Regions from separate parts of the Homo sapiens genome. Here regions 2, 3, 4, 5, 6 and 7 are each reported to be linked to region 1. Evidence: microRNA targets listed by miRTarBase, many of them from high-throughput screens and not tested one by one. Region 1 holds a microRNA gene; each other region holds the end of a gene's coding sequence.

The links. Region 1 holds the annotated microRNA hsa-miR-4775 (UUAAUUUUUUGUUUCGGUCACU, at 1,306-1,327, opposite strand). A microRNA usually pairs through its seed, bases 2 to 8, with sites in the 3' UTR of a target mRNA and lowers its output. Matches are read on the target gene's strand: a 7mer-m8 pairs with bases 2 to 8, a 7mer-A1 pairs with bases 2 to 7 and ends in A, and an 8mer does both.
Region 2: the mRNA of TRIM38 is a reported target of hsa-miR-4775. Seed matches in the 3' UTR shown: 7mer-m8 at 1,508-1,514 and 8mer at 1,632-1,639.
Region 3: the mRNA of SPNS1 is a reported target of hsa-miR-4775. The part of its 3' UTR that is shown has no 7-base or 8-base seed match.
Region 4: the mRNA of PRR15L is a reported target of hsa-miR-4775. The part of its 3' UTR that is shown has no 7-base or 8-base seed match.
Region 5: the mRNA of NMNAT1 is a reported target of hsa-miR-4775. Seed matches in the 3' UTR shown: 7mer-m8 at 2,341-2,347, 7mer-m8 at 2,092-2,098 and 7mer-m8 at 1,791-1,797.
Region 6: miRTarBase lists AMOTL2 as a target of hsa-miR-4775. Seed matches in the 3' UTR shown: 8mer at 2,818-2,825.
Region 7: the mRNA of NUP58 is a reported target of hsa-miR-4775. Seed matches in the 3' UTR shown: 7mer-m8 at 838-844 and 7mer-m8 at 2,125-2,131.

Annotation. Positions count from the first base shown.
Region 1 is chr2:207,753,002-207,756,142 of GRCh38, reverse strand. MIR4775 (microRNA 4775) reads right to left here and starts at 1,336; the gene lies at 1,262-1,336. It overlaps CCNYL1 (cyclin Y like 1), which reads right to left. Exons shown (of 10, transcript NM_001330218.2): 10 at 1-2,555. The coding sequence ends at 2,445.
Region 2 is chr6:25,983,219-25,986,359 of GRCh38, forward strand. TRIM38 (tripartite motif containing 38) reads left to right here. Exons shown (of 8, transcript NM_006355.5): 8 at 1-3,141. The coding sequence ends at 469. Among named protein-coding and RNA genes, the nearest start is that of LINC02980, 7.9 kb to the right of the region's middle.
Region 3 is chr16:28,983,737-28,986,736 of GRCh38, forward strand. SPNS1 (SPNS lysolipid transporter 1, lysophospholipid) reads left to right here. Exons shown (of 12, transcript NM_032038.3): 11 at 50-221; 12 at 469-807. The coding sequence ends at 563. It overlaps LAT (linker for activation of T cells), which reads left to right and starts at 1,316. Exons shown (of 12, transcript NM_001014987.2): 1 at 1,316-1,781; 2 at 1,977-2,004; 3 at 2,118-2,152; 4 at 2,399-2,480; 5 at 2,646-2,710; 6 at 2,804-2,833; 7 at 2,921-2,978. The coding sequence starts at 1,682. RefSeq lists silencers at 1,077-1,356, 1,377-1,436.
Region 4 is chr17:47,950,447-47,953,587 of GRCh38, reverse strand. PRR15L (proline rich 15 like) reads left to right here. Exons shown (of 2, transcript NM_024320.4): 2 at 325-1,621. The coding sequence starts at 354. The coding sequence ends at 665. Among named protein-coding and RNA genes, the nearest start is that of PRR15L, 5.9 kb to the left of the region's middle.
Region 5 is chr1:9,982,159-9,985,299 of GRCh38, reverse strand. NMNAT1 (nicotinamide nucleotide adenylyltransferase 1) reads right to left here. Exons shown (of 5, transcript NM_022787.4): 5 at 1-2,999. The coding sequence ends at 2,599. Among named protein-coding and RNA genes, the nearest start is that of RBP7, 13 kb to the left of the region's middle.
Region 6 is chr3:134,355,187-134,358,186 of GRCh38, reverse strand. AMOTL2 (angiomotin like 2) reads left to right here. Exons shown (of 10, transcript NM_016201.4): 10 at 424-2,840. The coding sequence ends at 482. Among named protein-coding and RNA genes, the nearest start is that of MIR6827, 11 kb to the left of the region's middle.
Region 7 is chr13:25,339,928-25,342,927 of GRCh38, forward strand. It overlaps NUP58 (nucleoporin 58), which reads left to right. Exons shown (of 16, transcript NM_014089.4): 16 at 38-2,494. The coding sequence ends at 207. Among named protein-coding and RNA genes, the nearest start is that of ATP8A2, 31 kb to the right of the region's middle.

The sequences.
Region 1 (3,141 bases):
TATAAACATGAGAAATAAAAACCACATAAATTGTAGCATTCTTTTCAAAATAAAACTGCAATCAATACTTGAATCTCCAAACTCTGAATTCCATAAACAATATTTGTTTTTTTGAGGTGGTAGATTGTAATATTTGTATACCATTATTTATCATTTATGTCTCTGTCCTTTAAAAATGATGGAAACTGCAGCACAATATGATGTGAAGCATTGCTATAATAGAGGAAGTACTCCTGTCCCAGAAATGCTTTGTTTATAAGCAAGATTCCTAGGATTAGATTTGAGAAAGTAGGAGAAACAGATTTCACATAGTTGAGAACACTAACCTCTTCTTAGTATTTCAAATTTAGGTGACATTATCGGTCTCCTAAAATTATTTGCTCCTTGCCTTTTAAAGCCTGAAGAGTTCCTAAGGGTTATGTAAGTATTTCTTAAATAGCAGGACTTAATGGGACACCTACAGCTTGGTAGCATGTAGGATGATAAAACAGCTGTTCATATCACCTTCTATAATTAGGGTCCAATTCCTTTTATTACATGTTAATTAACACTGCTCTTCAAAATCTTCCTTTAAAGAAACTGCGGTAATCAAAGCATATAGAGCACAGCTCTGCGGGTAACTACTTTTAAAAAGAGGGCATTTTATGGAGATACAAGGTATTCCAAAAGTTCAGTGTAATTTTAAGCTTTGATACTTGTAGAAATATAAATGCTACAAACCTTTACAAAACCTTGTCTGAACATTTTTCTTCTGCTTTTTTCTTTGAGACAGGGTCTGGATGTCGCCCAGGTTGGAGAGCAGTGACATGATCATGGCCCACTGCAGCCTTGACCTCCTGGGCTCTACTGATCCTCCCACCTTAGCCTCCAGAGTGGCTGGGACTACAGACACATGCCACCATATCCAACTATTTTTATTATTTTTTTTTACAGGCAGGGTCTCACTATGTTGCCTAGACTGGTCTTGAACTCCTGCACTCAAGCAATCCTTCCACCTCAGCCTCCCAGGGTACTGAGATTACAGGCATGAATCACTATGCCCAGCCCATTTCTTTTGCATTTAATTTTGCATTTTTCTAAGAGATGGGGTCTTGATAACGTTGTCCAGGTTGGAGTGTAGTAGCTATTCCTATAGGCACCATCATGGTACACTGCAGCCTCCAATACTTGACCTCAAGCAATCCTCCAGCCTCAGCCTCCCAAGTAGCTGGGACTATAGGCGTGCACCACCACACCCAGCTTCATTTTGCAAATTTTGAATATAAAGCTTTTAATTTTTTGTTTCAGTCAATGTCTGCTATCAAGAGTGACCGAAACAAAAAATTAAAAGCTTAATATTCAGGAGACAGGTGCCAGTTGCACTTGTAGTCCCAGCTACTTGTGTGGCTGAGGCTAGAGGATGGCTTGAGACCAGGAAGTTCTAGGCTGCAGTGAGTGCACAATGATTGCACCTGTGAAAAGCCACTGCACTCCAGCCTGGACAACGCAGTAAGACCCCCATCTCTTTAAAAACAAACAAAACAAAACAAAAAACTTTCAAATCATGTTTTTTAAAGGTTTATAGCATTTATACTCATGCTGCAGTGCCTTGGAGGGCCCAAACTATATTCAAGCTTAAAACTGCTTCACTTTTTCTCATCGTCACTGAACCACCATGTTGGTTGGCATTATGAAAATATCTTTTAATACATTTATTTAGCAAGAGAAAAATTATCAGAAAATGAGAAGCACCATTTATAGTTCACAAGAAATGCAACATGGACTCCAATAGAAGTAGATATCAATAACTGATACTTCCTCTGTTTATGACCCCAAACATGCTAAAATGCTAAAGTAATGCTTGCAAAGAATATGAATGACAAATGTTATCCAGCAGCTTTTTGGTTTAAAATGATTGCCAATGACTAGCAGCTTCAATGGTAACAGTAGGGAGGAAGAACCCTTCAGTACCTAACAACGCTGCTGTCTGCTCCTAAGTGGCTTTAGTTAGAGTCCCATGTTTTAATGGTAATACTGCATTGATTTTAAAGGCATATGCAGCAAAATGCGGGGGGAGGGAGAGAAACTGGAAGAAACATAAAAGTTATATGGTTAGTGTCTTTAAAGTCTAAAAATTTAAACTATTGTTTAAAAAACCTTACATAGTTCACAGCTATCGGCCCACACAGTAAGCAAATATCTGTGTGTAGGATGGGAGCCTTCACTTTGGAGTGGTTTTTGTAACTCTGTTTACATTAAAAAGGACAGAAGAGTGTTTTGTTGCATTGACAAGGTCCCATTCTTTCCTGTGGAGTATAATCCTTGTTGTCCATGAGTCTCTTGAATTTGAGATCTTTCCTTTTGATGAAAACACTAATTTTGCTGGTTTTTGAGCAGGAAAGGTGGTATTTCTCCAGTCTTTGTAGATGAAGGTCCCATGACGTTATAACCCCTCATTTCTCCTTTTAAGAGAGGATGGCTTTAGAGCGCTGAATACCAATGAAGTTATCAGCACTGAAAGACCTTCTCATAGCGGCTCTACACAAGTCTTTGTCTTCACACAATCTAGAAATAGCCTAGGAAAGTCAATCAAATAGAAAACAGGTACAATTTTAAAAAGGGTTCCCGCCTTTGAAAGAGCACCATTGTGAAAGCCACACATGTGGACTCCTTTAGATAGTTCACAGTTACAGCTACTTTGGCTGAGTTTTACACTGCCAGGTTGTGGGGACACTACTTCCTGACAGTTCACCAAGGTAATATCCTTTAAGGGCTATGGTTAGATTCCCAGAGAACAAAGGGGAATTTATTATATTATTAAAAAACTGGATTCCCAAAGATATCAAAGGTATTGTGATAGGGCTCCTAACAGCAATAGCATCTGTTATCTGTTAACTTATTCCTTAAATATAACAAACGTACACTTGTGCAAAAAAATGTTTATTCAGCTATTCAAATTCTACCCAATCCTTATTAGCTATTATATACTCAAAGCACATTTTAATGAGGCAGGTGTGTGCTGGACTATACTGGAACATATGAGCGGTCTGATGACTGACGCGCCAAAAGGTATTACTTCACATGCACGTTAATTATGGTAGAAATACATATTATTATTTTTTTCTTTTTTTTTTTTGAGGCAGAGTTTCGCTCGTTGCCCAG
Region 2 (3,141 bases), not on the chromosome of region 1:
TCGGAGACAAGTGACTCGTGGATACACCCAGGAGAATCAGGACACATCTTCCAGGAGATTTACTGCCTTCCCCTGTGTCTTGGGTTGTGAAGGCTTCACCTCAGGAAGACGTTACTTTGAAGTGGATGTTGGCGAAGGAACCGGATGGGATTTAGGAGTTTGTATGGAAAATGTGCAGAGGGGCACTGGCATGAAGCAAGAGCCTCAGTCTGGATTCTGGACCCTCAGGCTGTGCAAAAAGAAAGGCTATGTAGCACTTACTTCTCCCCCAACTTCCCTTCATCTGCATGAGCAGCCCCTGCTTGTGGGAATTTTTCTGGACTATGAGGCCGGAGTTGTATCCTTTTATAACGGGAATACTGGCTGCCACATCTTTACTTTCCCGAAGGCTTCCTTCTCTGATACTCTCCGGCCCTATTTCCAGGTTTATCAATATTCTCCTTTGTTTCTGCCTCCCCCAGGTGACTAAGGAAAAGAGCAGAAGCTCCTTGGTTTAACCAGCACAGAGAAAATAATATAAATCCCATAAGGGCAGACGTTTGGTCTGTTTTCTTCGCTGTCATTTCCTTAGTAGTTAGACTAGTGCTGAGATTTTAGTGGATATATAATTGATTTATGTTGAATATATGGACTTAGCAACTAAAAATACCACAGATGGTTAACCTGGACTGGGGCAAAGCAAGATAATAGTGATGATCGTATGTTGCTGTCTCCATCCGTCTTTAATGGGTCAGGGCTTTGATTTCCAAGGGTCTTCAGGTGATGAGTAGGGGTACCCACAAGTCAGAAGGTCTGCGTTCTCCTAGTTTGTTTGCTGCCATTTGAACTCATGTAGGGAATGAAAGAAAGCTGCAATTATCCGCCAACTGCATTTAAAACAAAACAAAACAGAAAAATCAAAATAACATTGACTCTTCCAACCACTGACATGTTGTTTAATAATCTAAGCGGCAGTCCTGGAGGCTACCAGACTTACTGAGTTCTACCTGAGAAACAGCCAAGCAAAGTGTGAGAGAAGGGTTAAGACTGGCTTACAATGAGATGCTTCAAATGAAAAGGGAATTATGAGTAAAATTGAACTTTGATGGGGGATTCAGTTCTGGAAAAGAATTTGGTATTTTCCAGTCTGCTAGGACCAATTACCTTGAAATATTTTAAAATCTCAGTAAATAGTTATTGCTGAAATGGCTGTTGGCAGTTCTTATTATGATTCAGAGAAGAGCAAATAGACCTTAACTTCATTTTGAAAAAGACCAAATTACCATACCCGAGTGAGTAATGACAGGACTACAACTAAAACATAAACAACATTAATGATGACCATAAAAAGTCACAAAATTGCTAAATGTTATAATTTAGAGTTGACATAAAAATTGATGGCCAGGCATGGTGGCTCACGCCTGTAATCCCAGAACTATGTGAGGCTGAGGCAGGTGGATCACTTGAGGTCAGGAGTTCAACACCAGCCTGGCCAACATGGTGAAACCCTGTCTCTACTAAAAATACAAAAATTAGCCGGGCATGGTGGTAGGGGCCTGTAACCCAGCTACTCGTGAGGCCAAGGCAGGAGAATTGCTTGAGCCTGCAGCAGCTGCAGTAAGCCAAGATCATGCTGTGCCTCAAGGAAAAAAAAAATTAATGTTTACTGATATTTGTTGAAGTCCTACAACATCACCTCTGAGAATAGGAGAAATGAAGCAACAGTTGTGTCTAGATGTCAGAGGCATGGCTGGGCCTCCATCTCTGCCTAAGGGAGATATAAAAGAGTTCAAACTATTGCCCATGTTCCCCAGGGTCAGAAGTTCTAATTATGATGATAGAGGCTGGGTTGTAAGTAGTAAGTGAAGGGTAGCAGAATATGCCATCTTTGGCATAAGAAGTATTTTGAGTTGAAGACAATTGAGAAAAAAAATAGATTAAAAACAAACAAACACCTCTGCCCTCTCCCTATTTGCCTAAAAGCAGGATATGAAATTGTGAAGGTGTCTTCTTACTCGGGGAAGAACAAAAGTTAGTCACCAGAGACTTTAGACTCTTATCAGCCTGGACATAGCACCAGAGAAGTCTTTTTTTTTAAAAAAAAAAAAAAAAAAAGGGAAAGAAAAAGTTGCCTTCCCACAATTTACTGCACTAGAAACTCAAAGTCCTTTTCGTCTTCCTTGTCACTTAAAAAATGTATTCTTTTCTTAAAATGCTATATAAGCCCAAGTTCTAAATCCTCTTTTGAGTATTCATCTCAGTACTCCCCTGTGTTTGTACAATGCACATGCTTTGTTTCTGTCTTGTCAATCTGTCTTTTGTTAGTCTACTTGATAGGGCCACAGATGGAGAACCTAAGATGAATAGAAAAAAAAGATTTTTCTCCCCAACAGAAGGATTATCGCCAGTTGCACTTGTTCTATATACCCGTAGTCTCGGTATGCTGACCCAGACTTGGGTAATAGGACCCAGTGGGTAACCGAGGAACCCCACCTTTGTGCAGGATCAGTGAAGATGTAATCTGGATATTCATAAGCTCTTCTCTACCTCTTGGCATCCCACAGTCCTGTGTTAATGTAAGTGTGGTCTTCCCCAGAAAGGGGAGGCCTCCCTAACATTGTTAAAGCCTAGCATATGCTGCTTAGAGGAAATTCTATATCCCTAAGCACTTAGATTGCTGAATAAGAAAGAATGATAATAAAATAAACAATTAAATAAAAGTTTTAAAAAATGAATAAAATAAACCTGTGGAAACTATAAGGAAGGCCAGAAGAAATATAAAATTGGAGATTAATTGGGGTGCAGGAAAGTTATGGAAAGAATATAAGTCCTGCTAGATAAATCATTAGCTATTTTAATAAAGAATACAGAAGAAAATAGGAACAAAAGAATATATACTGGAATAATTTTGAGAGTAATTTGAAGAATTAGATGCAAATAAATTTGAAAACCTTTAAAAAGAAACCAATGGCCTAACTGACCCAAGAAGGGAAAGAAAATCTAAACAGACTGATAAATACAAAATGAAATTCAGACACTTACAGAGCAGCCAGGCATGGTGGCTCACACCTGTAATCCTGTCACTTTGGGAGGCTGAGATGGGAGGATCACTTGAGGCTAGGAGTTTGAGACTAGCCTGGGCAAGGCTCCCATCTCTAAAAG
Region 3 (3,000 bases), not on the chromosome of region 1:
TCATCCATGAGGCTGACTCCCCTGGCTTTCCTGTCTCCTCTCCCTGCAGATCTCTGACCGCCTGCGCCGGAACTGGCCCCCCTCCTTCTTGTCCGAGTTCCGGGCTCTGCAGTTCTCGCTCATGCTCTGCGCGTTTGTTGGGGCACTGGGCGGCGCAGCCTTCCTGGGCACCGCCATCTTCATTGAGGCCGACCGCCGGCGGGCACAGCTGCACGTGCAGGGTCAGTTAGGAGCTGTGCCCGGCCCAGCTTCTTGATCTGCCTGTCTGTCTGTCCATCTGTCTGCCCACTCCTGTGCACCTGGCAGCTCAGTCCACAGCCCTCCCCTTGTTTGGCCTCCAGTCTGTCTGCATCCACCCCTGGGGTGGCTCTGTGGCTGCCCCATCCATTTCCCGCTGCCTGTTTGCCCTTCTCTGGCTTTGTCTGTCTGTCCATCCAGCTCACCCTGGCTCTGACCCTCCCCCCTCAGGCCTGCTGCACGAAGCAGGGTCCACAGACGACCGGATTGTGGTGCCCCAGCGGGGCCGCTCCACCCGCGTGCCCGTGGCCAGTGTGCTCATCTGAGAGGCTGCCGCTCACCTACCTGCACATCTGCCACAGCTGGCCCTGGGCCCACCCCACGAAGGGCCTGGGCCTAACCCCTTGGCCTGGCCCAGCTTCCAGAGGGACCCTGGGCCGTGTGCCAGCTCCCAGACACTACCTGGGTAGCTCAGGGGAGGAGGTGGGGGTCCAGGAGGGGGATCCCTCTCCACAGGGGCAGCCCCAAGGGCTCGGTGCTATTTGTAACGGAATAAAATTTGTAGCCAGACCCCAGGTGCCTGCTCTCGTCTTTCTCTGGGTGGCCTCTGATCTTGCACCCCGTCTTCACCCCAGGGCTCCTGAAGACTGTGGGTCATTCCTCAGGGCTCTGGGTGAGTCTCTGCCCTTCTGGGCTGGGCGACTGAGATGGGGGACTGCTCTTCTCCGAGTGAGCTGGCTGAGTGTGACCGTGAGTCACGCCCCTGCTTCCCTGGAGCCTGTCCCTTGCCTCACAGGCCTGGCTGAGGTGGGGGTGGGCACTGCCCTTTGTACCCCAGAATTCCCACTGTCAGGGCCTCCCTGCTCGCTGCCTCCCCGGGTCCTGGATATGGAGGCCACGGCTGCCAGCTGGCAGGTGGCTGTCCCCGTCTTGGGGGGGGCCAGCAGACCCTTGGTGAGTGCCTGGGGTGGCTCCCGGGCCTCCTCCTGCCCCCTCCCCACTGGCGGGTGGGGTGGGAAGGGGGCGGGTGCAGCCGGCTGAGAGCTTGATGATTTCCTGCCCTCGCCCGGCGCTCACCACAGCTTCCTGCCGCAGGCGGGCGGGAGGGCGGGCACGGAGAGGCGGGCGCCGAGGAGGGGCAGGTAGGGCTGGGACGCAGGGGTAACTGGATCCCCCGACTTCAGCCCAGGCCCTGGTCTGACCACCCTGGGAGCAGGGACTTTCCACAGTCAGCTGGACGCACACTCAGCCCAGTAAAAGAGGGGACCCATCCCGGGAGCCCCGGGGAGGGCACAGCTGCCTCCTCCCGGGCTCCCCTGCCACCTGGTGCCTACCTGCCCCCTGCTCCCTGCCGGGTCCGGTCCTCACCCCATCTTCATCTGGCCTTGACTCTGCCCTTGAGGGGCCTAGGGGTGCAGCCAGCCTGCTCCGAGCTCCCCTGCAGATGGAGGAGGCCATCCTGGTCCCCTGCGTGCTGGGGCTCCTGCTGCTGCCCATCCTGGCCATGTTGATGGCACTGTGTGTGCACTGCCACAGACTGCCAGGTGAGTGGGAAACTGGTGGGGGTACCCAGGGCCCAGGGACACCGACGGGATCCTCATCCACTCCCAGCCCCTGTGTCTGTCCTGGCTCTGTCCCTGCCTCCGTCCTGATCCCAGCGCCTCTGAGAGTCCCTGGATCCCAGCACCTTCTGCCCTAAGCACCCCCTGTTCCTGCCTCACCAGCCCTCTCTTTCCCAGGCTCCTACGACAGCACATCCTCAGATAGGTGAGTCCGCCCCAGCCGCCCTGGGTCTCCCTCCACACCCCATGGCGGGGCAGGGCTGGGGCTTCCATCCTCCATCTTCCAGCCCCATCCCCAAGCTGTGTCTCCTTTACCAGTTTGTATCCAAGGGGCATCCAGTTCAAACGGCCTCGTGAGTACAAGGAGGGTCCCCTACCTTGGGTGCCAGGGAGAGGGTCCCCTGGTGTGGGAGTGAGCGTGAACCTTCAGACTTCCCCTGCCACCTTGGGGCTGCCCACATGGCCTTGACCTGAGCTGGGAGAGGGGAGATGGCTCCCCCAGGCCTGTCCAGGGTGTGGGGCTTTCAGGGGCTTAGTCTGTTCTTTGAGGCCTTGACGATGTCCGGAGTCCTTCTTTCAACTTGGTTCTGTGTCCTCAGACACGGTTGCCCCCTGGCCACCTGCCTACCCACCTGTCACCTCCTACCCACCCCTGAGCCAGCCAGACCTGCTCCCCATCCCGTGAGTAGCTGCTCAGCCCCTGCCCCTCCAAAGCTCAGCCCCTCCCCCTCCAAACTCCACTCTCTACCCCTTCACTTTTTTGGATTGGGGGCCCCTTTCCCTTTTGCAACTGCTGTTGCCCCCTGAGCCCCACCTCAGGCATGACCCCTGACCTTTGACTCCCAGAAGATCCCCGCAGCCCCTTGGGGGCTCCCACCGGACGCCATCTTCCCGGCGGGATTCTGATGGTGGTAAGTGTGGGGAAGGGTTCAGGCGGCGGGGGCTGGGAAGAAGATAGGCCTGGCCTGAGCTGACTTAGTCTCCCTCTCACCCTCTCTTTGAAGCCAACAGTGTGGCGAGCTACGAGAACGAGGGTGCGTCTGGGATCCGAGGTGCCCAGGCTGGGTGGGGAGTCTGGGGTCCGTCCTGGACTAGGCTGACCCCTGTGTCGTTACCCCCAGAACCAGCCTGTGAGGATGCGGATGAGGATGAGGACGACTATCACAACCCAGGCTACCTGTGAGTGGCCAGGTGGGAGGTG
Region 4 (3,141 bases), not on the chromosome of region 1:
TCCCGGGTTCAAGTGGTTTTCCTGCCTCAGCCACCCGAGTAGCTGGGATTACAGGTGCGTGCCACTACGCCCAGCTAATTTTTGTATTTTTAGTAGAGCCGGGATTTCACCATGTTGGCCAGGCCTGTCTTGAACTCCTGGCCTTAGGTGATCCACCTGCCTTGGCCTCCCAAAGTGCCGGGATTATAGGCATGAAGAACCACGCCCAGCCCTTTATTTAATTCTTAAAACAGCCCATGATTAGGAGTCTGCAGCAAGCTGGTCCAAAGGCACCCACCCCCTTTTCCCACTGACCCCTTTGTCTCCCCCACCCTGCTCCAGCAGAAAGCCCCATCCTTGGCTTAGGGAGCGCCATGACGACTGAAATTGGTTGGTGGAAGCTGACTTTCCTCCGGAAAAAGAAATCCACTCCCAAAGTGCTGTATGAGATCCCTGACACCTATGCCCAAACAGAGGGAGATGCAGAACCCCCGAGGCCTGACGCTGGAGGCCCCAACAGCGACTTTAACACCCGCCTGGAGAAGATTGTGGACAAGAGCACAAAGGGCAAGCACGTCAAGGTCTCCAACTCAGGACGCTTCAAGGAGAAGAAGAAAGTGAGAGCCACGCTGGCAGAGAACCCTAACCTCTTTGATGATCACGAGGAAGGACGGTCATCAAAGTGAAGGGCTGAGGAGGGTGCTAGCACCTCTTGGCTCCCTGCCATCAGCCAGATCTGAGACAGGACCTTGCCACGCTGGCCTCTTTGGCCATAGCTGAAGCTGTGGGGCCAGTTGATACCTGCTGGCAGGAAATGGCTGTTTTTTAGGTTTGTATTTATGTGCCGCCACTTTTGTAAGGCCTGGGAGATCCCAGGGTCCTCCACCCTCCCCCTGACCACATACAAAGGCACTCTAGTTCAAGAGTGAAAAGTCTCACCCAGGAGGAACAGCCCTCCTTGAAGCAATGGCAGGGCCAGCAGGGAGGTGGGCATGGCAGGGAATGGAGAGAGTGAGCCAGACAGACTTCACCTCCTTACTGGACACAGGGTCAAGGGCGAGTTTCAATTGCTGCTCCCTTTACTTTCTCTACCTGTGACTACTCCCTGGACCAATCCTGAGGAGGGCACATTTTCCAGAAGCCACGTGATAGGGGCTGGTTTCTGTGGAGCCAGAGGCAGAGACACTGAACTTGAGCTCACCTCCTAACACCGGCAGTAAACTTCCTGGAACTTTGCCCTCAGGTGCGGAGGGGACAGAGGACCCTGGCACTCTGTTAGGGTGCTGTAGAAGACTAGATTGATGGTAGTTTGGCCTGTTAGTTCCTGTTTTGGCCATGACTTTTGCAGATGGCAAGTCACACACCCTCAAAGGGAAGCTACACGGGCCAAATCGGGGGAGTGGGTGGGGAATTTTCTCCTCTCCCTTTCCTACTATAATAGTATTTAAGACATATCAGCTCCAGAGATGAGTCCTGGAGCCTTGAATTTTGTTTAACAAAATAATTGTAGGTTTCTCTCTGTAATAACAACGCTGGAAAGGCAGAGAACCTCTTTTATGCTCATGTCTTGCATTTATTGAGATGACTGTTTCTCATGCCTTTATGTTCCTTCATGTAAGTAAAGTGGACCTTTGTGCTCAAACTGTTCCTTTCAAGCTTCAGGAAGGGTTCCCAGGTGTGACAATGTAGGAACTGGGTCACTAATTTTTACCATCAAACTAGCCTTAGTATGGGGATGGGGCAGCAGAAGGAGCTAGTTACACCTCAGTGGTCAGTTCTCTCCAGTCAACAGAGAGCCCGTCAGGTGCTCTAAGAGAGTAGGGCAGACCTTTGGTGATTGACCCCAAAGTTTCAGTGGTTTGGTTTGGGATTAAGATTCAAACTCGGGCTCTACCCCTTAGTAGCTGGGTGACCTTGGGAACATTTGCTTGTACTCTGAGCCTCAGTTTCCTCTTCTGTAAAAGGGGGCTGAAATAATACCTATCTCATAGGGAGTGGTCAGTATTAAGTGGCCTATGAGAGGTCCCATAGTAAGTGCTCAGTTTAATACTGGTTTCCTTCCCCCTTCCTTTATAAGGAACTCCACCATACCCCACAGCTTTGGTTTAAGAAAAAGGAGAAGGTGGGTATAGTGGCTCAGGCCTGTAATCCTAGCACTTTGGGGGCTGAGGTGGGAGGACTGCTTGAGCCCAGGAGTTTGAGACCAGCCTAGGCAACATAGAGAGACCCCATGTCTAAAAAAAAACCAACCAACAAACAAAAAGTAGCTGACTGTGGTGGCACATGCCTGTAGTCCTATCTACTTGGGAGGCTGAGGTGGGAGGGTTGCTTGAGTCCAGGAGTTCAAGACGACAGTGAGCCATGATTGTGGCACTGCACTACCACCTGGGTGACAGAACTAGGTCTTATCTCTAGGGGAAAAAAAAAATTAATAAATAAGAGATGCTTGGCACGGTGGCTCATGCCTGTAATCCCAGCACTTTGGGAGGCTGAGGCAGGCAGATCACCTGAGGTTGGGAGTTCAAGACCAGCCTGGCCAACATGGAGAAACCCCGTCTCTACTAAAAATACAAAATTAGCCAAGTGTGGTGGCACATACCTGTAATCCCAGCTACTTGGAAGGCTGAGGCAGGAGAATTGCTTGAACCCAGGAGGCCGAGGTTGCGGTGAGCCGAGATAGCTCTATTGCACTCCAGCCTGGGCAACAAGAGCAAAACTCCGTCTCAAAAATAAATAAATAAATAAATAAGAAAGAGGAGAGAAAGCTGTCACTTTATGAGGTTAGGTCCAGCTCTTTCTCAAGCCATAAGAGCTGGGAACTAAAAAAATGTTGGCCAAATCTCTGGAGCTCGTGGTAGAAATACAGGGAGAGACCAAGGTGGCCACTAAACAATGTGGTCCTGCGGCTTCCAGGTCAGCTCCTGGCAGGCTGCTGGGCCACCCCACCCCAGGAGCTGTTGCTCAGGGAATTTATTAGTGAAACAAACAGACCTATACAAGGGAGGCTTTGTTAGGTGCCTCGTCCCAGCCAGGGGGACCTCAAATGATGAGTAAGGGAGACCAGGAGCTGGAGGGATGGAAGTCAGGCTCAGGGGTGCTGCCTTACCCAAAGCCTCTTTCCCCTACCCCGTCCCACTACACAGAACTTTCTAGGGTCTCACC
Region 5 (3,141 bases), not on the chromosome of region 1:
ACTCAGGAGCACAAGCCAAGCACACAGTAAGTGTTCAGGAAGTGCTGACATTATGAAGTTCAAACAGCACCACTGGTAAACGAAGTTCAGATTTCAGAGGTGGAGACTGTGTACGCAGCCTCACAGCTGAGTGGATGCCGTGGTGAAATGTTTAGATCATAGGCCTTTGAGAAAAATTATGAGAATGTTAGAGGAATGGGCCTCCGTTGGCACCCAGAAATAAACGTTAAAGGAGGCTATTTCATCATATAACAACTTCTGGACTTCTAGAAAAGTGAAAAGAGAGGCTTGGGTAAGGAAGATGAAAGCCCTCCCACCACCCTGCATGCTGACCTAGGGCATCCTTCCTTCTACTCTGTTGTTAGATCCTCATGATGGCCAAAAAAAAGCATTCTTTAACCTAAACCATCCCCATGGCTCAATCTCTACCCCTTCATCACCAAGGAAAAGCCACTTCTCTTATCTGAAAGGCCTGCTGTTCACATAAGCAAACACTACCACAAAGGCTCTCCATCATCCGAATGAAGATGCCAATCAAGGACTTTTACTGCAGGTTTGTTTGCCACTTTCAAATTACACAATGTAAGGGGTAAAGGGTACAACACATAAAACCCCCAGCATCAAACAAACAGGCCAAACAAAACACCAGCATCACACATTTCCTCTAAATTGACAGTACAAAAGCAAATTATGGAAATGATGCAGGAGGGAATAAACAATGGCATATTTTCTTCACGTCAGTCATTAATATTTATTCCCCTGTGAAATTCATTGTTCTAACTTCCATTATTCAAAGTGGAAGTTCTGTCCTTGAGGACACCCAAAATTATGCTATTACGTGGCAGCATCAACAGCATCCTCGGCGTTGGGAGAAAAAGCCAAGCTTGTTCTCTGTACAAAGCTTGTTCTTTGTACAAAGTTGTTGCTCCATAAATAGTGCAACAATAGGATCAGGCTGGGTGCAGTGGCTCATGCCTGTAATCCCAGCACTTTGGAAGGCCGAGGTGGGCAGATCACCTGAGGTCAGGAGTTCAAGACCAGCCTGTCTAACATGGCGAAACCCCATCTCTACTAAAAATACAAAATTAGCCGGACATGGTAGTGGGTGCCTGTAATCCCAGCTACTCAGCAGGCTGAGGCAGGAGAATTGCTTGAACCCGGGAGGCGGAGGTTGCAGTGAGCGGAGATCGCACCACTGCACTCCAGCCTGGGAGACAGAGTGAGACTCCATCTCAAAAACAAAAAACAATAGGATCATTGTACCCTTACCAGGGCTCCTGCAAGGGTCCCCACATGCCTTGTCCAGTGAGGTCCTGAGGTCAGTAGTCACAGCTGAGCAGGGCACAGGCACTTCTGAGTAGGAAGGCACGATAGTATGAGAGAAGTTTCCAGCATTGGAAACTTTCTGCAGTTTACGTGACACTTCAGATGAACTAGGTGTAGTTTCCCAGAGGAAGTCCAAATTCAGTTCTGATAGCTTCATCTTGCTCTATCATTACTTTTCAGGACTCCTTCAACTCTTAAACTCCAAGAAGCTAAGGAGGAGAAAATGACCCTCATCTGTATGATTTGAGGCTCCAGCCTTTCACTAACTTGGCAGATGGATCCTGAAACCTGCTAGCTGTCAGGCTTTTTTTTTTTTTTGAGATGGAGTCTCGCTCTGTCACCCAGGCTGGAGTGCAATGGCACGATCTTGGCTTACTGCAACCTCTGCCTCCCAGGTTCAAGCGATTCTCCTGCCTCAGCCTCCCAAGTAGCTGGGACTACAGGAGCCCACCACCATGCTCAGCTAATTTTTTGTATTCTTAGTAGAGATGGGGTTTCACCATATTGGCCAGGCTGGTCTTGAACTCTTGACCTCACGTGATCCACCCACTTAGGCCTCCCAAAGTGCTGGGATTACAGGTGTGAGCCACCACACCCGGTCTTTTTTTTTTTTCTCTTTGAGATGGAGTTTTGCTTTTTTGCCCAGGCTGGAGTGCAGTGGCACAACCTTGGCTCACTGGAACCTGTGCCTCCCGGGTTCAAGCGATTCTCCTGCCTCAGCCTCCCAAGTAGCTGGGATTATAGTTATGCGGCACCATGCCTGGCTAATTTTTTGTATTTTTAGTAGAGACTCCATCTCAAAAACAAATAAACAAACAAAAACTTATTTTAGCTTACCATTGATTTTTACTAAATTTTTTTTTTTTTTTGAGACAGAGTCTTGCTCTGTCGCCAGGCTGGAGTGCAATGGTGCAATCTTGGCTCACTGCAACCTCCACCACCTGGGGTCAAGTGATTCTCCTGCCTCAGCCTCCCAAGTAGCTGGGACTACAGGCACGTGCCACCACACACAGCTAATTTTTGTATTTTTAGTAGAGATGGGGTTTCACCATATTGGCCAGGATGGTCTCGATCTCTTGACCCCGTGATCCACCTGCCTCAGCCTCCCAAAGTGCTGGGATTACAGGCGTGAGCCACTGTGCCCAGACGATTTTTACTAAACTTTTAAGCTTTAGTTTAGGCAACAGATCACAACTTCTTTCCCCAGTTATTAACTCCCAGATTGTTTCAGATCCCCAAATGGGAAGTCTGAAATATCATGCTGTAGAATTCCTATGTCTTAGCTTCTGCAGTGTTTCTCTGCAAAGGGGCCAGGATGACCCCAGCATTCCTGTCTTCACTCTCAGAGCTGTACAAATTATGCTTTTCAATGTATTCTTGGACAAGATCTGGTACCAAGTAGCGAATGCTCTGGCCCCTTCTGAGGGCTCTCCGGATTTTTGTGGATGAGATGTCATTAGCGATCCATTCATTCACCACGTGAATGTTGCTCCGGTGTTTCCACAGCACATCCGATTCATAGATAAACTTCTGAGCATCATTTCCAGCCCGAGTAACACATATGAGCCCATAGTTGGCCACGATTTGGGTGATGTCTTCACTCTTCCACAAATTGGGAACAGCAAAGGACTCCAATAAATCTGCCCCACACAGCAGCTTGACCTTTGGCACAGCTGGGAAGAATAAAACAGAGCTTTGGGGTATGCTTTTTCTTCCCCTCTACCTCCTCCAAGTGGAAAGGGGTTTACTTTTCTAATAACCCACTGTATCAAAATGAAGATACGTATGTGCTTTTCAAGGATGAGGGCTTAGGCC
Region 6 (3,000 bases), not on the chromosome of region 1:
GCACTCTGGAAGCCTGTTTAAAGAGTCCGGGAAGGAGAAATCTGAGAAGATGCCATTTCTTTTTCCACTCCCCTTTCACATTGGCCTTTGCATATTTGCCTGTGCCTCATGATCTCAGAAAACCACAGGCATGAAAAGAATGCTGCAGCCTGCCTCCCTCAGGGCTCTCCATTGCTCTCTCTAAGCCCTCCAACCAGTTCAAAGTTAGAAACAAATGCATCCTACACATCGGAGGTTGGTGGGCTGGGCTGAGCACTGAAAGGGGGCAGAGCATTGTGCTTGGTTGGCCGAGTTCTGGGAACCTGGGCAGCAGAGGTGGGAAAAGTTGGTGAAGAACGATCTTTGTCTTTCAAATGTGCCAGGATTTTAAAAGCAATCTAGTAACACTCATTGGCATGTGCCTGTGTTCTTGTCTGTCTCCAGACTCTGTAGCTACATCCAGAGTCCAGGACTTGTCAGACATGGTGGAGATACTGATCTGAAGGAGGTGGTGCTTCAGGACTCTGAGCCATTCTCTCCCCTCCTCTGCCCTGTGCCACTCTCAGCCATTTCAGCAGCCCCGTCAACCGCTGCTCCGTCCCTTTCCCCAGCCAGACACTCATTCCCATTGACCATCTGGTCCCAGGAGCTCAGGAGGAGGACCCCAGGGGAGAGGAGAGCTGTGAGAGCACCGGCACCCCCAGAAGACTCTGCTTCTTAGCCCACATTCCTCCGGGCCTTATGGAGAATGAGGATTCAGCCTTGACTTCTTGCCCAAGGCCTGCTACTGGGGTAGCAACTGACAGCTCAGAAAGGAGCTGAGCTCCCTCTGCCCTGCCAGTTGTCAGTCAGGCAGGGAGGGAGTGGCTGTGTTGGTTTGGGGAACTAATTTCCACGGACGGCTGCCCGTGGACACCAGGTGGACTGGTTCACTAATCAAGTCAGCCATATTGTTCTCTGGCTAAGTTTGGTTCCAGCCAACGTCATCTGCTCTTCAGTTCCTCACTGCCTTCTTGGGATACTAAGACTTGAATTTTTTGGGGACTATTAAGGGTGTTAGTCTTGGAGAAGACACAGCCTCACCTTCTCACTTGCTGTGGGTGAGGGGCCATTTAAGTGGACTGGGAGACAGTGCGCAGTTTGTATATAATTCCCTTTCTTGTGGAACAGAAGACTGAGGCCTGCAGGTTCCGATGTGTCTCCATGGGCTGTGCTCCCCTCTTCCTACTGTCAGTTTCTGAAACTTCTGACTGGCCTCCCAGTTATGCCTCCTCCTCAAGTTCCTGGCCCGTGGATGTTAAAGCTGCTCGATTCCCAGGATCTCGGCTGCCTTTTCCTCTATCTTGAGCCCTATAAATGCCCACGGGACCCCCACCACCAGCCTCTTGAAGTGGCTCCACAGCTCCTGTCCCTGGAACATCCTGTCAGTTTGGTCATAAACCCTGAGCCAGATGAAATGAGCCACCGTGAACAGACATCTGCCATGCCCCCAGGTGGGCTTCGGTGGCCCTACCCGGTACCAGTTCTTTCTGAGAAACTGGAGATGTCTTGTTAGCATAAGTGTCTTCATTCCCACCTGGAGGGTTTGGGAGAGGAGCAAAGCAGTTGAAAACTAGTTAATGAGCTACAAGAGTCAAATAGTCCTCTGAATGGAGCCCCCATCACAAAACAGTGCCCAGGAGGCTGGCTCCTCAAGCTACCCATGCCCAGCGCCCTAAAGCAGCACCAGATGCTTTGGAATTGGGGTGAAACACCCACATGGCAGCCTGCTAGCAGCAGTGACTTTGACTTCTGGTCTTAAAGAGTCCCTCACTTCAGCCCCAGGAGCTATTGGTGGGTTTTAGCAGTTTTGTCTTTACCGTTTTTAGTTCTCCTTGATTCTTTGTTTTCTTCCTTTATCGTTTTTAGGTTTGGTATGTGTTGTTTTATTTCCATGGTTCCTCAAGTTTCCTTTTTAAACATTTGCATTTGCTGGACAATTGCAATTTTTTTTAAAAAATTCCCCTACCCCTGTTTAAAGCTGAAAAATACATTTGGTTCATGTGCATTGTTTACAAAGCAAAAAGAAAAAAGAGGAAAAAAAGGCAAAAAATATTGTGAAAGAAAAAAAACAACTTAATATATTTTGGATTAATATTTGGTATTTCTTTTAAAGTATTTTTTGTGCTGTGAACATTTTCTGCCAAAGACCATGATGTGTGTCTGTATGTTTAAGTTATCGTAAATATTTAAAATGTAAACATGGCTGTTTTGTTATGCCACCCTGTACCAGGATTGCTGCCGCATTCCACTGGGTATAACAGTATTTTAATTAAAAAAAAATAATTAAAAGTGATGTCTTTGCACAGGTGAGACTTTGCACTGAGGGAAGGGAAAGGGTGAGGATTTTGGGGGGCCACCCAAGTCATAGTCCAATCTCTTCAAGGACCCAAGATAGAATTTAGGAATTTTGTGAAGCTGCATTAAGGATAGAGTTGGAATGAGGATGTGGCTGGCATTTTTCCCCTTTCATAGATAACATTTCTTGAAGGCTGGGAGGGGAAGGAGGGCCTGGCAGATGGCAGCCTCCCGAGGTAGGGCTGTGTTCTAATCAGCTTTGTTCGGCCACACGCTGTGGTTATCCACAGTGGGAGTGGGTGTCCAAAGATGGCTTTATCCTTCCCCCACTCCTTTTCCCACTCCCACCTAGCACATAAAGTTTTGTCCGAAACCATCCAGAAGGCCAGGCACCATGCAGAGGACATTCAAGAATGTGCATGTTCTTAGCCACCGCCTCCCTCCTTTGCTGTGACATCACCACTCTTTCCTGATGCTCAGGAAAGCATATTGCTCCAATTCAAAATTAAAGAAAGCCATTCTCAGTCTTGCTTGTTCTTGTATCAGAAACAAAATACCTGTCTTGTGCTTCTATAAGTGTGTTAGGACCCTGAGGTTCCCAGTCAGCATGTGGCCAGCAGTTAGCTGGCCATGAGGCAGCAGCAGGCTACCAGACAGCCTACGTGACATGTGACAGGAACAGTT
Region 7 (3,000 bases), not on the chromosome of region 1:
AACTTCTGATATGAATATTTTTTTCCCTAAACATAAGGCTTTGGCAGCTCAAGTACATCTGGGTTTAACTTCAGCAATCCTGGCATCACGGCATCAGCTGGTTTGACTTTTGGGGTGTCCAATCCTGCCTCTGCAGGTTTTGGAACAGGAGGACAACTCCTTCAGTTGAAGAAACCTCCAGCTGGAAACAAAAGAGGAAAAAGATAAACATGGGTTGATGTGTTGAGAGAATCCATAGCAGCACCGTTCATTCTATGAGTCTATTTTTCTAATGATGCAGTAATTAAATTGCATCCCAGGAGATTTATAAAGTTTTGATATTTTTCCCTACTCTGGAATTTGAACTTTCTTCATGTTTGCCATACTGAACATCTTTTTTCTTGTGGAATTTAAAGTCCAGCTGTGTTTTCTTTTTAATTTGATTCTCAGTGTAAGAAATGTTCTGATTACATCACTGATTGGTAATGGTTAGAAACCATTAACCTAAAACTTACTATTTAACCTAGTGTTTTTGTTGATGAGGTTTACATTATGTGAATACATGCACATTTGTTTCTTATACAGGTGGTGTGAACTCTAGGGCCTATACTAGAATCAATTTGTTCCTTGTTAAAGGCCTTTTGAATTATACTGCAGGGCATCTTGTGAATATGTATGTAAATATATACAGAATAATACACACAGTTGTGTGTGCATATAAAATACATATTTACGCCAGGCGTGGTGGCTCACGCCTGTAATCCCAGCACTTTGGGAGGCCGAGGCAGGCGGATCACCTGAGGTCAGGAGTTTGAGACCAGCCTGACATGGTGAAACCCCATCTCTACGAAAAATACAAAAATTAGCTGGGCATAGTGGCGGGTACCTATAATCCCAGCTACTCGGGAGGCTGAGGCACGAGAATCACTTGAAGCCGGGAGGTGGGGGTTGCAGTGAGCCGAGATCACACCACTGCACTCCAGCCTGGGCAACAAGAGCAAAACTCCGTCTCAAAAAAGATGAAAATAAAATAAAATATATATTTACAGGCCTACAACTTTTGCCTCAGACTGTTCCCCTTTTCTAAGGGTATTCAAGTTTTCACCTTTTAAGCTTCATATCCTCAGTGCTTGTAGAATGATGAGCTTAGAGGTACCAGGTCATTGCAGTTGTTTGCTTAAAGACTTATTGAAATGGTTACTGGCGTAAATACTTGGCCAACTCAACTTTATTGCCCCTGATCTTTTCCATTTTTGTTTCCACCTTAACCTATAGCAGCTCCTCCAAATGAGGAATGCTGTAAGTAAGACTCATCAAACAGATTTTAACCATTTTATTATCCTGTGTGTCCTTACATTGCTTCTGTGAGATGTTTTTTTCTTATCTGAGATGAACTTTCAGGAGCCTATTTGAACTCCAGACTGGTGTTCTGGGGCAAAGAGCTATTAGCCAAACTGATTCTATGCAGGTGAAGGATGCACTAAAGTTCTCACTTTAGTGAGAACTTTTCTAGCTATTCCAATACAGAGTTCTTTCTTATAGGGCTATTGATATTGACACCAAATGGAGTGGCTTCTCAGCCTCTTAATGTCTTAAGTAAGTGCTTAATTTGGAATAGAGAAACCAGTATATTTTAAAAAAGAAAAATATTCTTTGTAGCAACTGTAAATTCTCCCATTATAACAGTGAACAGAGCTCCAGGTAATAACGCATAGGCATGTCAGGTTGCATCTGTATATTTGACTACATTAGTATTAGTGACATCAGGTGGATATAAAAGAAAACCCTTGGAAAGAGAACTGCCTTAGCCATGATTTCGTTAGTAGACCTATTTATGATTCAATTGCAATTTTCAGATAGGATGTGAACATGGAATTTCATTGAAAATAGTTTAATTTTTTATATAAAAGGTTTTGTATATAATGTGTGTCAGTGACTATTTTCAAAATCATTTTCATCAAGACACCTTTTTTCTAAAATAGGCATTGCATACACATATGCACACGTATGTGCATGTGCCACACATTTTTTGTATAATGTTGGGTTTGATTATAAAAGTGTTGTCAAATGTTTTATTTATCTGCATATAGCAGTGGTTGGCTTTTTTGAATTGAAATTTTTGCGCATTGATGCATTGAAATAAGGAAAATTATTTATCTCTGAGCACTAAACTTATTTTTGCATATTTCTGTAATATTGCAGTCCCCAGATCCAGAACATGGGAAGTTAGGGAAAATGTGTGATTTTGTGTTTTGAATTACTGTCAGAATTACATACACAATTACAACAAACTTTTTTTAAAAGACATTTCATTGTACTGCAAAAATCTGAATATTTATATTTCTTGTTTTTTTCTTTATATGTTTTGCATTTTAATATGTTGAGCCACTGGAAATTTGTAACAGATTAATTTGTTATAGGAGTTTAAATGTGTTGTCATTGTCTCCATTGTCTTTGTCCAGAGCCTATTATTATGGAAACAATAAAATTTATTGTGTCAGTTGCTTTGATTCTTTATAGGTGTCAGTAGCTGTTCTTAATATGTAATTTTATTATTGCTCTTTTAGTCTCCGGTTGGGTTTTAGTATATTCCCTTCATTGGTTTATACATCTTGCTCTTTTTTAAACAGAAGAGTGAACATAAGATAGTAAATTATTTCTCACTTGCTTTTGTCTTCTCAAAATGACAAAAACAGTGAACATTTTTAGTTATAAAGAATAATATTGAGTAAAAAAGGAAAAATCCCTTTGAACTTTTGGGCCCTAATTCCCTTCCATTTCCTAGTGTGCAGTCTGATGGTTTGATATGTATCCTTGTAGACCCTTTTAAATATGTCTTAAAAGAATATATAAATGTTACTTCTCTTTTCTTTTTCTTTTATATTCTCTCTGATTTTTTATCACATTTTATTCTCTTGGATCCCTCTTTACTTTTTTAACAAATAGGTTAAAAAGTTTGTGTTCTGGACTTGTTCTTTTTCCCTTCTATTAGTATATCATCAGCATCTTTCTGTGTCTATA